Regions from separate parts of the Homo sapiens genome. Here regions 1, 2 and 3 are each reported to be linked to region 4. Evidence: microRNA targets listed by miRTarBase, many of them from high-throughput screens and not tested one by one. Region 4 holds a microRNA gene; each other region holds the end of a gene's coding sequence.
Evidence for each region. Region 4 holds the annotated microRNA hsa-miR-497-5p (CAGCAGCACACUGUGGUUUGU, at 2,089-2,109, shown strand). A microRNA usually pairs through its seed, bases 2 to 8, with sites in the 3' UTR of a target mRNA and lowers its output. Matches are read on the target gene's strand: a 7mer-m8 pairs with bases 2 to 8, a 7mer-A1 pairs with bases 2 to 7 and ends in A, and an 8mer does both.

Region 1 (3,081 bases), not on the chromosome of region 4:
CTTCAAGGAAAACCCGAACTGCCTACCACATCACCATCAGTGTTTCCCTCGGCGGCTGTCAAGTGCAGCCCCCACCGTGGGTCCTTTGACCAGCTACCACCAGTATCATAATCAGCCCATCCACTCTGTCTCTGAGGGAGTCGACTTCTACTCCGAGCTGCGGAACAAGGGATTTCAAAGAGGGGCCAGCCAGGAGCTGAAAGAAGCAGTTAGGTCATCTGTAGAGGAAGAGCAGTGTTAGGAGTTAAGCGGGTTTGGGGAGTAGGCTTGAGCCCTACCTTACACGTCTGCTGATTATCAACATGTGCTTAAGCCAACATCCGTCTCTTGAGCATGGTTTTTAGAGGCTACGAATAAGGCTATGAATAAGGGTTATCTTTAAGTCCTAAGGGATTCCTGGGTGCCACTGCTCTCTTTTCCTCTACAGCTCCATCTTGTTTCACCCACCCCACATCTCACACATCCAGAATTCCCTTCTTTACTGATAGTTTCTGTGCCAGGTTCTGGGCTAAACCATGGAGATAAAAAGAAGAGTAAAATACACTTCCCGACCTTAAGGATCTGATACATCTAGTTATTGGTCTGGAAATTGGAGAAATGGAGGTGAGCAAATTAACGGTAGTGTGACTGTGGCTCAACTTTCCATGGTACGCGCGAATTGTTCTGGAAGTCACAGATGGGAAGACAGAAGCGCCCCTGAGTGCTTTGTCATATAGCACAGAAGTCCTCCACACTGCCTGGGACAGTGTCCTGCATCCACACAGTAGGTACCCAGTAAAAGTGTTATTAAATATTGTCCCAGGAGCCCTTAGGAGAGTGGTTTAACATGAGAAGGCGCCAACAGCACACAGGGTCAGGGTCACTTCTAGAAATAGCCCACCAAGGCTATTCAGATTGGACTGTGGTTCCCTTCTGGACAGTCACACCAGGGACTTCCCAGTGAACAAGGGGGCATAGGCTCCTCTCTGGATCCCACCTTTTCATCCCTTCTGAGAAATGTACCCTATTATTTCCTTCATAAAGAATGCCACCCATCTGATTCCTCAAGAATCTAGACCTAGAAATACCATTTGACCCAGCCATCCCATTACTGGGTAGATACCCAAAGGATTACAAATCATGCTGCTATAAAGACACATGCACACATATGTTTATTACGGCACTATTTATAATAGCAAAGACTTGGAACCAACCCAAATGTCCATCAGTGATAGACTGGATTAAGAAAATGTGGCACATATACACCATGGAATACTATGCAGCCATAAAGAAGGATGAGTTTATGCCCTTTGTAGGGACATGGATGAAGCTGGAAACCATCATTCTGAGCAAACTATCGCAAGGATAGAAAACCAAACACTGCATATTCTCACTCACAGGTGGGAATTGAACAATAAAAACACTTGGACACAGGGTGGGGAACATCACACACCGGGCCTGTCATGGGGTGGGGGGAGGGGGGAGGGATAGCATTAGGAGATATACTAACGTAAATGACGAGTTAATGGGTGCAGCACACCAACATGGCACATGTATACATATGTAACAAATCTGCACGTTGTGCACATGTACCCTAGAACTTAAAAAAAAAAAAAAAAGAATGCCACCCATCTACTTGCCCGTTCTCTTTTCCATATGGGGAAACAAACCATCCTTGATGACTAAGACGAATGAGAATGGCACACAAGTGTATTCCTGTAGAGTATTTATTTATTTACTCTATAACAGTTCACATTTTAAATAGTGCTTCCTGACAATATACCAGCTGGCTCTTCTTTAATAGGGCAATAAGGATAGCAATTCACATTCAGGGGATTAGTTTCACCATACCACACATTTGGGGGATGGCAAAAACGGGGTCTAAGGAAAAGGGAGGGTGTTTAAGGGAAAGAGGAGGGTAAGACCCTTGCATTTGTAGAAGTCATTACTATTTCTCAGTAGTGGTCATATTGGCTTTGCCGGCAACCTCAGGATGGGATTAGAGAAAGAAAGGAGCATGTCCTATCTTAGACACCTGGGTGGGTGGCTGCCTGCAAGGAGAAGGAGGCTTAGGGACACATTTCACAAGAAACCAGCACCCACATTGGTCAGATGAAGCTTCCTCAATTTTCAGCCACCACTTACACCTTTCTGTACCGGCTGCAAGAGGAAGAAGAAAACTAAACTTATAATGTTGTTTGGCAAGGAGAGATTCAAACTTACCATAGTCAAAAGAATCTATGTTAAGTTAGTTTGCAAATACACCATGAAGAATTCAGGTACATTAAGTTTCTCTAGCTTCCTCTTATCTTTCTGGGATTTGCCCTGCATAAACACAGTCCTCTGCCCAAACAATCCCACCAAAACAGGTCCTCAGAAAACAACTTCATGTTTCACTCCTGCGCAGAGTGGCTGGCTTCCCAGAAAGCCTTAACATAACAGAGAACCAGGTTATGCCCGGACAGCTCAGCCAAACCACAGGACCACCACCCAAGTTTTGGGTATTCAGCTGCCTATAAATTAATTCTTCAAATTCTATACTAAACCAAATTAGGTCCCAGGCCCTTAAACTCAAGTAGATTCAAATCCCAGAAATTATCTGGAATCATTCCCATACTCTAGAAGTATCTTCTTATTCCTCCAAAGTCAAGCTGGACCCACAGATGACTTCCAAACTGTTGAAACAAAATTTGCCTTCAGGATCTTAAGGCAGAGGCACCCAGAAACCTGATAAGGCCAATCTACAGGCCAGGCAACATGCATGCTTGGATCTACTGCTACCAACCTCCTGTTAGGTCATAATGCCTGTCAGTGGGTAATTAACAGAGATCCCTTTGAATCTGGACTTCATAATTTTCTAGAATCCTTTTACTAACACAAGCTAAAAGATACAAGCCCAGCCGGGCATGGTGGCTCACGCCTGTAATCCCAGCACTTTGGGAGGCAGAAGCAGGTGGATTATCTGAGGTCAGGAGTTCGTGACCAGCCTGGCCAACATGGTGAAACCCCGTCTCTACTAAAAATACAAAAAAAAAAATTAGCCAGGCATGGTAGCGGGCACCTGTAGTCCCAGCTACTTGGGAGGCTAAGGCTGGAGAATCG
Region 2 (3,083 bases), not on the chromosome of region 4:
TTACTAACCTAATGGAAAATTACAAGTATGTTCTATCCTAAGCATAACAGAAAAAAGGCTCCATGGGGGAGGAATTAATCACCAGTGTGCTGTGTCATTTTAGCATTCACTGCAACCAATTTCACTGAAAACAAAGCAACCCCGCCCAAACATTACAAAATACTCAATTGCTAATCAGCCCCCTGCAAAGGAAAACAGTTTGAAAAAGTAGTCATACAAGAGAGGAAAAAAATTGGTATTTTTTTGGGTAGTTGAAGAAACTAAGATGAGTCAACCAGCATAGCGAACAATAAAATAATAAACTCGAGTGATTAGAATAGGCTTTAAAATTAAGTTTACACATGCTGACAAGTGGTTTTTGTGACAAATGCTACTGTAACTTGTATTATACTGTGTCATTTCCAGATATACTGTATTCCCATTCTCAATAATTGTTTCATGGAAACAATTCACCACTTCATGCTGTTCTTTGAGCAAAACCAAGTGTGATTTATACATGGCAGAAAAAGTTCCTATGACCATCATATGATCAAATTCTAAGGTTATAGAAAAAAATAAGATTTCTAAGGATCAACACTTAAAAGCAATTTTCTATCAGTGAAAATGAGATATTTTGTATTATGCTGAAAATCGATTTTGGTATTAAAATATCACAGTTTGAAGCATAAATTTGATAACATTAGCTGGAACATAAACCTCAGATACAATTTTTCCCGACCTTAGCTACAAAACAAGACATTTGGTATACATTTTCAGAGGCTTCTACCTTGTCTATAAAAATACACCTTCAATTTTGCAGCAGGCAAACACATAATATTTGCAGGCATACACATTACTAAAGGTTAGAGATTTGGGGTGACTGAGTGGCACAGAGGTAATGGGGCACAGAGGAAGGTGGAAAAGTGTTTGTGCAAACAATTATAATCACATATAAAATAGTGTCTTCTTTTTCCTCTCTTTTTTAAACTGGTCAAGGACTGTGGATTTCAAATTAGGCATAAATTTTAAGAGTGGCTTAAAAAGGCTTGACCTTCTATGAAGAAATGATTGTTCACTTCACTGAGATGAATCTTGCCTAAAAGGTTTACTAAAAGCAGTAAGAGTAAGATGACAAAATATTACTGAGCCCTAGACACTTTTATTTTTAGCACTATGAATTACAAATAATGCCTACAAACAGGCATACATTTGCAGTTGAATTAATGTGATATAAAGCTTTCATTATACTGAATTTTCAAATTCTAGTTGTGTGGTGCTAGCAATCATTTTAATTGTGAAGAAAAATAGAGAAATATGGACCAAATAAATGTTACATATGTGCTGAATTTATAAACTAAAATACTTTTGTCTAAACACTTGTCTTTCCTCATTAATGTTTTATAAAGGATCATCAAAAACAGAATTGAGAATTTTTTTTCAATTATGAATCAGCTGCTATATACTCTTTAGCTACAGCTTCTCAAATAGTTCTCTCTCTTTCTCAAACTAGAATATCAGAACTGCAGAAAGGTGTTAGTGGCTTTCAAGAGGGTCTAGATACCTTCTGAAGATGTCTGAAATCTCAAAATACTCCTTAAAAGTCATAATTGTGTGTATTTTCAAAGGAAGAAAAGGCTAATAAATGCAGGATAGTGAGACTGTGAAATGTGTCAGATGTCAAATAGTTTTTTTGTGGGAAGGAGTAGACAACAAAATGGAAATTATTAAACGAAATGGAAAAATAAAGGTCATGGTTTCAGGTGCAATACAGAATATCTGAGATAATAATTTCAATTTTAGTCCACTTGTTACAAAGGGCAACCTTGCCCTACACCTGAAATTCTTAACATACTCATTATGGCCTTGCCATAAAACAGCATGTTAGCAGTTTCTACATTCAAAGGGATGCTTGCAAACTTCATTCATATTAAAATCTATGTAAAATTGTTGGCAATACAATAAGAGTAATGTTACATTATGTAAACCATGGCATACCACATTTTACATTATGCAAAGAGGCAATATTTACAAGTCTTTAGGAGTTTAAATATTTTATCCACTAACATAAGTGATAAAGCAAAGTGCAGGACAAAACCAGTGCCATTAATTGCATGTCCTTTAAAAGCATGTCCTTTAAAAGCAGAGTAAAACCATTTCTAAAAGCTACCAAAAGCTTATTTAAGTTTGTCCAGTAAGGGATTACAGAGCATCAAGTAGCCTAGAAAAATGATGCGAGTTTAGAAACAATGAGTATGAAAATTATAAGGCAGCATGCTCAGAACAAGTTTTTGTTTTTTAAACACCAACACTGATGATTTATCTTTAATGGCAACTATCTATATATGTATATGCACACACGCATGTGTGTGTATTTAAAATTGAGAGTGCAAAACACAAGCCTCATTGAAAGACAAAAAAGATGTGCAAATTTTCTTCATAAACCAACACAAAAGAGCGAGAAGAATATTCTACCATTATAAAGAATAAGTTGAACACAGCAAAGGAGACCATCTTCATTCCAAATCTACAAGGCACTAAGGGTAGGAAATGACAGGTAACACAGAAGTGACTGGATAAAACTCCTCAGTCAGGTCGGAATATGGGATATTTTGGTAAGAATTCTATTAGTATTACCTGCAAAATAAAAACAAGAATATATTTACAAAATATTTTTCATTTAATATAACTTATAAATAACCCAGAAAGTCTATAATCATTTTTCATAGGACAATATTTCAATCCTGAACCATATAAAGTAAGTGAAATACATGAAAAAAATATGTAAAGAACTTAAACCACAAGTTGTTATTAGATTGGCAATTTAAAAATTAAGCTGGCAAACAAAACTACTTATTGTAGCTAACAGATTTTACTATCTGATTTACAATAACTATTTGTCTAGGTTAACAGGAGCAAACTCCATTAAATTATATTATGTTTTTCCCCCACACCCCTATCTCTTTGTTAGCAAAGTAGAGATTAAAAAAATGCTATACAGATTAAAAAATGCCTTTATATTAGATTTATATATTTTTCAATTAAAGAAACTGATATTAGTTGGAGATTACTATCGTTCACAAGTTGTGAAAAATTAATGTGCCCAA
Region 3 (3,083 bases), not on the chromosome of region 4:
ACTATAGGGTTTTTTAAATTTCTAGTACTAATTCTGATTCTTAAAGATAGCTATCATTGGTATTCTAAATTTCATGCTGTTCTTAAAAAGAGCAAAATGCTTATCCTGTAAGTTTTACTCTAATTCACCCCTAAAATTTACTTTATGTGGGAAAGTTTCACCATAAAAAATCTACTATTTATATAGGTCGAGATTGATTCTACTACCTTTGTAGAACAAGCAGAGGCTCATTTGTATAAGATAAACTGGGTTTCAACATCTAACTTTACACTGTGACTCTGGGAAGGTTACATAAATTCTTTGAGCCTCACTTTCTGAACTACAAAACGAGAACATGATGACAGTCCTCAAAGTGTAGCATGGAATTTAAAAAGAGCTAGTGCACATTCCTAGCACACGGGTAGGAGTAGTATAGAACAGTATAGGTGTTAATGTTAATGACTTTTTCTCCTCTCTTTCCCATTTCTGGCATATTTTGGCTAACGGGAGATTAGTGAGAAAATATGGAAGAAGTTACTGGAATAAATCAGCTCTACTAAAAGGCTCATCTACATTGCAGGCAATAGTTATACATTTTCAAAGTAACATTCAATAAGATCAAAACATTGGTTATAAAAATGTATTTACATTTTACAATTCATATGCAAGAAATTTTTTCAGGGCAACAATTTAAGAAAAAAACAGATAAGCTACATCTGTGTGTATACTTTAATTGTGTAAAACTGAAAGAATACACCCAATTGTATTCAATGTTGTATGCTCATGGACAGGTAACAGACACAAAGCTACTTCATACAGTAATCTATATTGACATCAAAATAGAGTTTCTCTAAAGGAAAGAGCCTTTTTTTAATGGGATTGATCAAAATTAGAAGTTCCCATTATTTGTCCATGAAACCTAAGGAAGGTGCTATTTCAAATGGAATTCTAGTAGAACTTGGCACATACATTTTAACTTTTCAACCACCCATTATTTTTTACCTCTTGTAGTTTCACTCACTCAGACAATCACACATCTACATTCATTAATTTTAAAAACACACATGCCTTTAAAGCAGAAAATTCATCCTCAAATTACATTTTCTACAAAAAAAGCAGGACACCATATTTATATCCAATGCTTCAGTCATGGAAATGGATTTTCTTCATAGAGCTGTTAATTAACATACACTATTATGTTCAACATTTCAAAAGGTGTGTTTTAGGAGGATCTGTTTGATCATGTGCAGGAATTCTAAGGCATTATAAGTAGTTGTTCCACAGGACAAGTGCTGCCCTTGCAATGATATACTCTTGATATATTTGACAAGTCTTTAGTCTTCAAATGCTACCAGCCATAGGGAGACATTCGTAGTCTACGGGTGGGTTGGCTCAAAGGTCAAAAACTTGTTTGAAAAAAAGTTTATGGAATAGCACCATAAGAAGTCTTTCAGAAACAAATCTTTTTTTTCCAGCATTGTGTTTTGAAAAAATGAATCCCAGGAAGAGAAAAATGAAAGAGACCTTTCAGTTCTCACAAGGCCTACTTCTGCTTCATTTCAATTTTAAAAAATAGATTAACCATGACAACATCAACAATAATAATACAACAATAACAGATCGACAACAAAGGAAAGACAATAGCAGCAGCAGTAACTTGAGTAATGAACCATCCAGACAGTCATTCAGAAGAATCCTGCTCACACCTCTTCGGAGTTTTCTCATAAGGTTCATAAGACATCACAGGCTTCTTGGATTTGGTGTGAAAAGGCAGCACTTCCAAAAAAAAGAACTAAGTTTACCAATTCACTGGGCGTTTTCTGAGACTTAAAGAACTGATGTCTAGAATTTAACTGCAATAATTAGACACCATTGAGATTTCAAACTCATCTAAATGTAAGTACACTAAAGTGGTCTCAAGATCATTTGTGTTTCAGAGGTTAAGCTGGCCTGCAAGTGGAAATAATGAAGCTGAAATATCCCAGTTTCCAAACACCAGACACACACATACACATGGAAAGTACAAATCACCCTCAGAAGACTCCCATTTCACATTCACCTTATATGGATCTGGTTTACACTGTATCCAAGATACAAAGTCAGCAATTATCCTAAGACAACCAAAATACTGTTTTCCAGTTTACGACCTGCAAGATCATTTTATGTCCCTAAATCTTGACAAATTGTCAAAAAGAACACTGCAGGGTCACAGTTCCTGAATTAAACTGTCTGAATTGTGAGGCATCTATTTCAAGCTGTGAACAAAAGCTTGTAGAGTCTTCCTTGAAGTATATGATGCCCTTTCACCAGCTTTATTAATACCATCAAGCATGGAGTTCAAATATCCTTGTAATGCTGATGAGGGTTTTGCTGGAAACTTCTCTTTTAGTACAAAGATAATTCTGGTCTTACAGGGATTTTTTGTTCAAACTCTTTGTATAAAACATTTGTGCCAATATCTTCAGTTTTAAAAAAAATATGTCTTCTCTCCATTATGCACATTCCTTTGTGTTCTGACAGAGGTTTTGGTGTTATTTTTTGGTATGTGTGGTATCTGGATATCTTATGCTTTTGTATCTTATATGAAATCCCTTCTTGTTGATTGTGTCATCAGTGTGGAAATGAATTAAAACTGAATCTCCAATTGAATAAATCTCTTCTGGTGGCTGAAGGAAAACAAAAACAACAAGCAAGTAAACAAGCAATAAAACGAATCACTTTTTCTTCAGTGTAACGCATGTTTGGGAATACTTGTCTTTGGAATATAATTTAATCCTCCCAACAACCTTGGAGAGTAGGTGTAATCAACTTCTTCACTTTATAGAGGAGAAAATGGGATTCGGAGAAGAAAATGACATGCTAGAGCTCACGCGACTAGTCGGTGATGTAGCTGAGCTCTGAACATACGTTACATTTTCTAAGTTCTGGGCACTTTTCTCTCTAGAACTTGAGTGTTTTTCCCTAAACTTTTAAGCCAAGTTCTCTTGATTTACAAATCAGTAAAGTGAGGTTCAGAGAGTGTAAAGAGATACTAAATGTGTTTCAGAAGCTGCTCTGGAGCAGAGCCACTTCCAAAATCCAAATTGTCCATTATTTCTTGTTTT
Region 4 (3,083 bases):
TTTCCTAAACCACCACGGTGACCAGCCAGGGGGGAGGGGAAGGGAGGAACGGGCTTTCCTGCTTCCTTAAGACAGGGGCAATGAGCTTGACCTCCTGGCCCCTAGCCCTTTGAGGAGTGATTCCCCCCGGTCTGGAAGCCAGGTGTCCTGGACCCTAGCCCCCGAGCGGTGGGGGGGGCCTGGAGAGACGGGGAGGAGGAAGGAGGGAGTGACTTCCAAAATTGGCATCGGGACAGAGCAGGGCTGGCGGGAGGCAGGCAAAAGACGGAATTTTCCTGAAAAAACGGGGGTATCTGAGGACCCCAAATTTGGGGAGCTAGTCCAGGACCGTCCTCCCAACATCCTAGATTTTTTTGGGATTTTTTGGGGACCCCGGGACCCCTCTAGATGGGGTGAGGAATGTAGTGTTGGGTGAATCTGACTGGGGCATTGCAGCTGCCTCTCCCGCCGAGTTGGAGACGGATGGGCTGGGACGGGTTTTGGGGGGGTGTCCCCAATTCTGACTGGGAGTGGAGGAACCCCTCCTGAGATCTCTTGTGGGGGTGCCCCCTCCCCAGGGCACTCCCCAGTCCCTGAGCCAGCCGAGAGGAAGGAGGCCAGCGATGCGACTGGGGCGGCTCCTTTCTCCTGCACCCCAAATGTGAGGGATGCACCCTAAATTTTGCTCTTTTCAAAATAGGGGACCAGGATCTCAGGGGAGAGTAGCTGAGGTAAGTGGGGAGGGAAGTGTCCTCTGTTTTCAGGAGAGACGTGGCGGTTGGGGGGGAGGTTTGGAGGTGCGTGCTGGGGTGGGGTTGGCTTTGTCAGTCTTGGAATTGGGGGGATGATTGGAGAGGCTTTCTCTTATACCCCTAAACTGCAGCCCCCCAGACGGAAACCAAAGGCTGAGACCAGAGAGCCCCCCAACATCCCCAGCCGTTAGGATAGTGTTTAATTTCTCTTTCACCCCCCACAAAGGCTCTGCCGAGGTAGGAGCTGGGGGCAACTGTTAGTTTGGGGGCTATGGAGGGTGGTGGAGGAGCAGGAGGCCTTGGCAAGATTTGATGGAGGGCAGATAGGGGTGTCCGGGAGGGGTCTGGCATCTTCGGGGGCCTAAAAAGACTGCTTACATACACCACCTTGGATCTTTCAGATTGCTAAGAGTTTTGGGGGGTGTGTCGGAAGAGGGGGTGGTAAAAGATGCGATGGGATATAGGAAGATAACTTCTGGATTTTAGGGGGTCATATTTTGATTTGCAAAAGGAGTTTTGGCCCTTGGATTTTGCTTTCTGAGGGGTGTTTTTAAAAAATCAAGTCCTGGACAGGAGAAAAGGGCTGAGGGAAGGCCTGGAGTTGGGGGTGGGGAGAGGCATGTTTGTCTCAGCTTAAACGTGGCTCTCTGGGGTGGGCCCGCCTGCCCTGGCCTGGTGGATGGGCTGATGGAGGTTGCTGTGGGGGCCGGCTCGGGTCCTCAGGGGCCCTGGGGAGTGGGAACAGCACTGGGGGTTGAATACCTGGCCCCCCAGGTCCAGATGGCCCTCTTCCTGGGCTCTGCTGCTCCCCTTCCCCCTGGTCTCCATTTCCTGCCTTTGGCCTCCATCTTGTGGCAGGCCCAGGGCCCAGGGCGACTTCCGGCCCCCCTCTCCCAACCATGTTCCGGCCCCACCACCTCTGGACTGCCAACTCCCAACCCTGCTGGCCTTGGCCCTCTGTCTCTCCTTGCTTTTCTCTTGGGTTCTGACCCAGGGAGAGGAAGGACGGACACAGGAAGCCTTGGGTCCCTGCCCTTGCTGAGACAGGAGGCAGTGTGTTGGCCCCTCCAGTCATTCCCTATTTCTTCTGCCTCTGACCCCACCCTAGGGATCCCCTGAGCTGAGTTCCTACAGAGGGAAGATGGTCCAATCTTACTACACTGTGAGCTCATCCCCATGGTCCGTCGCCTTCCAGTTGCCTGCTCAGCCCGTCCCTGGTTCCTCCCAAACGTTTTTGGGGGCCATGTTTGCCTTTTAAGGCTTCTCTATCCCCCCGCTCCTGGAGGTGGTGCTGGGGTCTTCCCAGCACTGCTATGTGCTCTCTTCCTTTCAACCCACCCCGGTCCTGCTCCCGCCCCAGCAGCACACTGTGGTTTGTACGGCACTGTGGCCACGTCCAAACCACACTGTGGTGTTAGAGCGAGGGTGGGGGAGGCACCGCCGAGGCTTGGCCCTGGGAGGCCATCCTGGAGAAGTGACACAAAAAACATCTGGGGCCTTGTGACAAACTTCTTGCCAGGTGGGCAAGGAGAGGGTGGGGTATGTAAGCACCCCTCTAAAATCTCCAGGGCAGTTTCAAGAATACTGATGGCCAGAGACCCTGGGAGTAAGTTCTGCCTCAAGAGAACAAAGTGGAGTCTTTGTTGCCCACACCCAGCTTCCCTGGCTCTAGCAGCACAGAAATATTGGCACAGGGAAGCGAGTCTGCCAATATTGGCTGTGCTGCTCCAGGCAGGGTGGTGAAAACTACCGAGGAGGGGCTGAGCCCCCATGGGCCGAGGAGAGAAGAGGGAACAGGCCTCTCCTGCTAATAATGTTAAGCAGACAGCACGAAGCTGAGAGGGAAATCTTTATTGTTTTCTGTATAAAAATGTCCATCAGATGAAGGTCAAAGGGGTTGGGGGCAGATGCTTATGCGGGAATAGCGAGGTGGCAGCCCCAGCAGCCTTTCAGCCCTCTCTCGTGCAGGCCTTGCTCGGAGTCCCAGGAGATCCACAGGTCCGGCATGAACAGTGAGAGGTCAGAGGTGGAAGGCTCAGCAGGAGAGGAGAGGAGGATCAGCAGAGGTCATGAGAAGGCCAGAATCCAGGGTCAGGCTGTCTGGAACAGGAAGTAAAATGGGCCGAGATGGAGCGAGCCCCCAGTGTGCTTCCAAGGCCACTCCCACCTCCCTGAAACACCCTGCTACGTACTGATCCAATGCCCTGCGCTGTGTATGAGAGCACCTTCTCTTCTGAAACCCCTATACAAGGGAGGGGCCCCTGCGGAGACCGTGCCCTGCCATCCAGGTGAGCCCTTTCTCCCCAACCCCGTCAGCTGTGTGGGAGGAGGAGGACTCCTACCCTGGTCGAA

Region 1: the mRNA of GSG1 is a reported target of hsa-miR-497-5p. Seed matches in the 3' UTR shown: 8mer at 1,121-1,128.
Region 2: miRTarBase lists CHIC1 as a target of hsa-miR-497-5p. The part of its 3' UTR that is shown has no 7-base or 8-base seed match.
Region 3: miRTarBase lists TLL1 as a target of hsa-miR-497-5p. Seed matches in the 3' UTR shown: 7mer-m8 at 1,625-1,631 and 8mer at 1,621-1,628.

What each region holds. Positions count from the first base shown.
Region 1 is chr12:13,082,061-13,085,141 of GRCh38, reverse strand. It overlaps GSG1 (germ cell associated 1), which reads left to right. Exons shown (of 7, transcript NM_001080555.4): 7 at 1-1,610. The coding sequence ends at 241. FAM234B (family with sequence similarity 234 member B) reads right to left here. Exons shown (of 13, transcript NM_020853.2): 13 at 1,693-3,081. Among named protein-coding and RNA genes, the nearest start is that of GSG1, 20 kb to the left of the region's middle. RefSeq lists an enhancer at 1-538.
Region 2 is chrX:73,680,485-73,683,567 of GRCh38, reverse strand. It overlaps CHIC1 (cysteine rich hydrophobic domain 1), which reads right to left. Exons shown (of 6, transcript NM_001039840.4): 6 at 1-2,613. The coding sequence ends at 2,563. Among named protein-coding and RNA genes, the nearest start is that of CHIC1, 120 kb to the right of the region's middle.
Region 3 is chr4:166,100,304-166,103,386 of GRCh38, reverse strand. TLL1 (tolloid like 1) reads right to left here. Exons shown (of 21, transcript NM_012464.5): 21 at 1-2,645. The coding sequence ends at 2,511. Among named protein-coding and RNA genes, the nearest start is that of TLL1, 230 kb to the right of the region's middle.
Region 4 is chr17:7,017,005-7,020,087 of GRCh38, reverse strand. It overlaps MIR497 (microRNA 497), which reads left to right and starts at 2,066; the gene lies at 2,066-2,177. It overlaps BACC1 (BPTF associated chromatin complex component 1), which reads right to left. Exons shown (of 6, transcript NM_174893.4): 5 at 3,074-3,083; 6 at 2,568-2,827. The coding sequence ends at 2,823. It overlaps RNASEK-C17orf49 (RNASEK-C17orf49 readthrough), which reads right to left. Exons shown (of 8, transcript NR_037717.1): 7 at 3,074-3,083; 8 at 2,564-2,827. It overlaps MIR497HG (mir-497-195 cluster host gene), which reads left to right and starts at 434. Exons shown (of 3, transcript NR_038310.1): 1 at 434-710; 2 at 2,700-3,019. It also overlaps MIR195. RefSeq lists enhancers at 1,360-1,529, 2,881-3,083.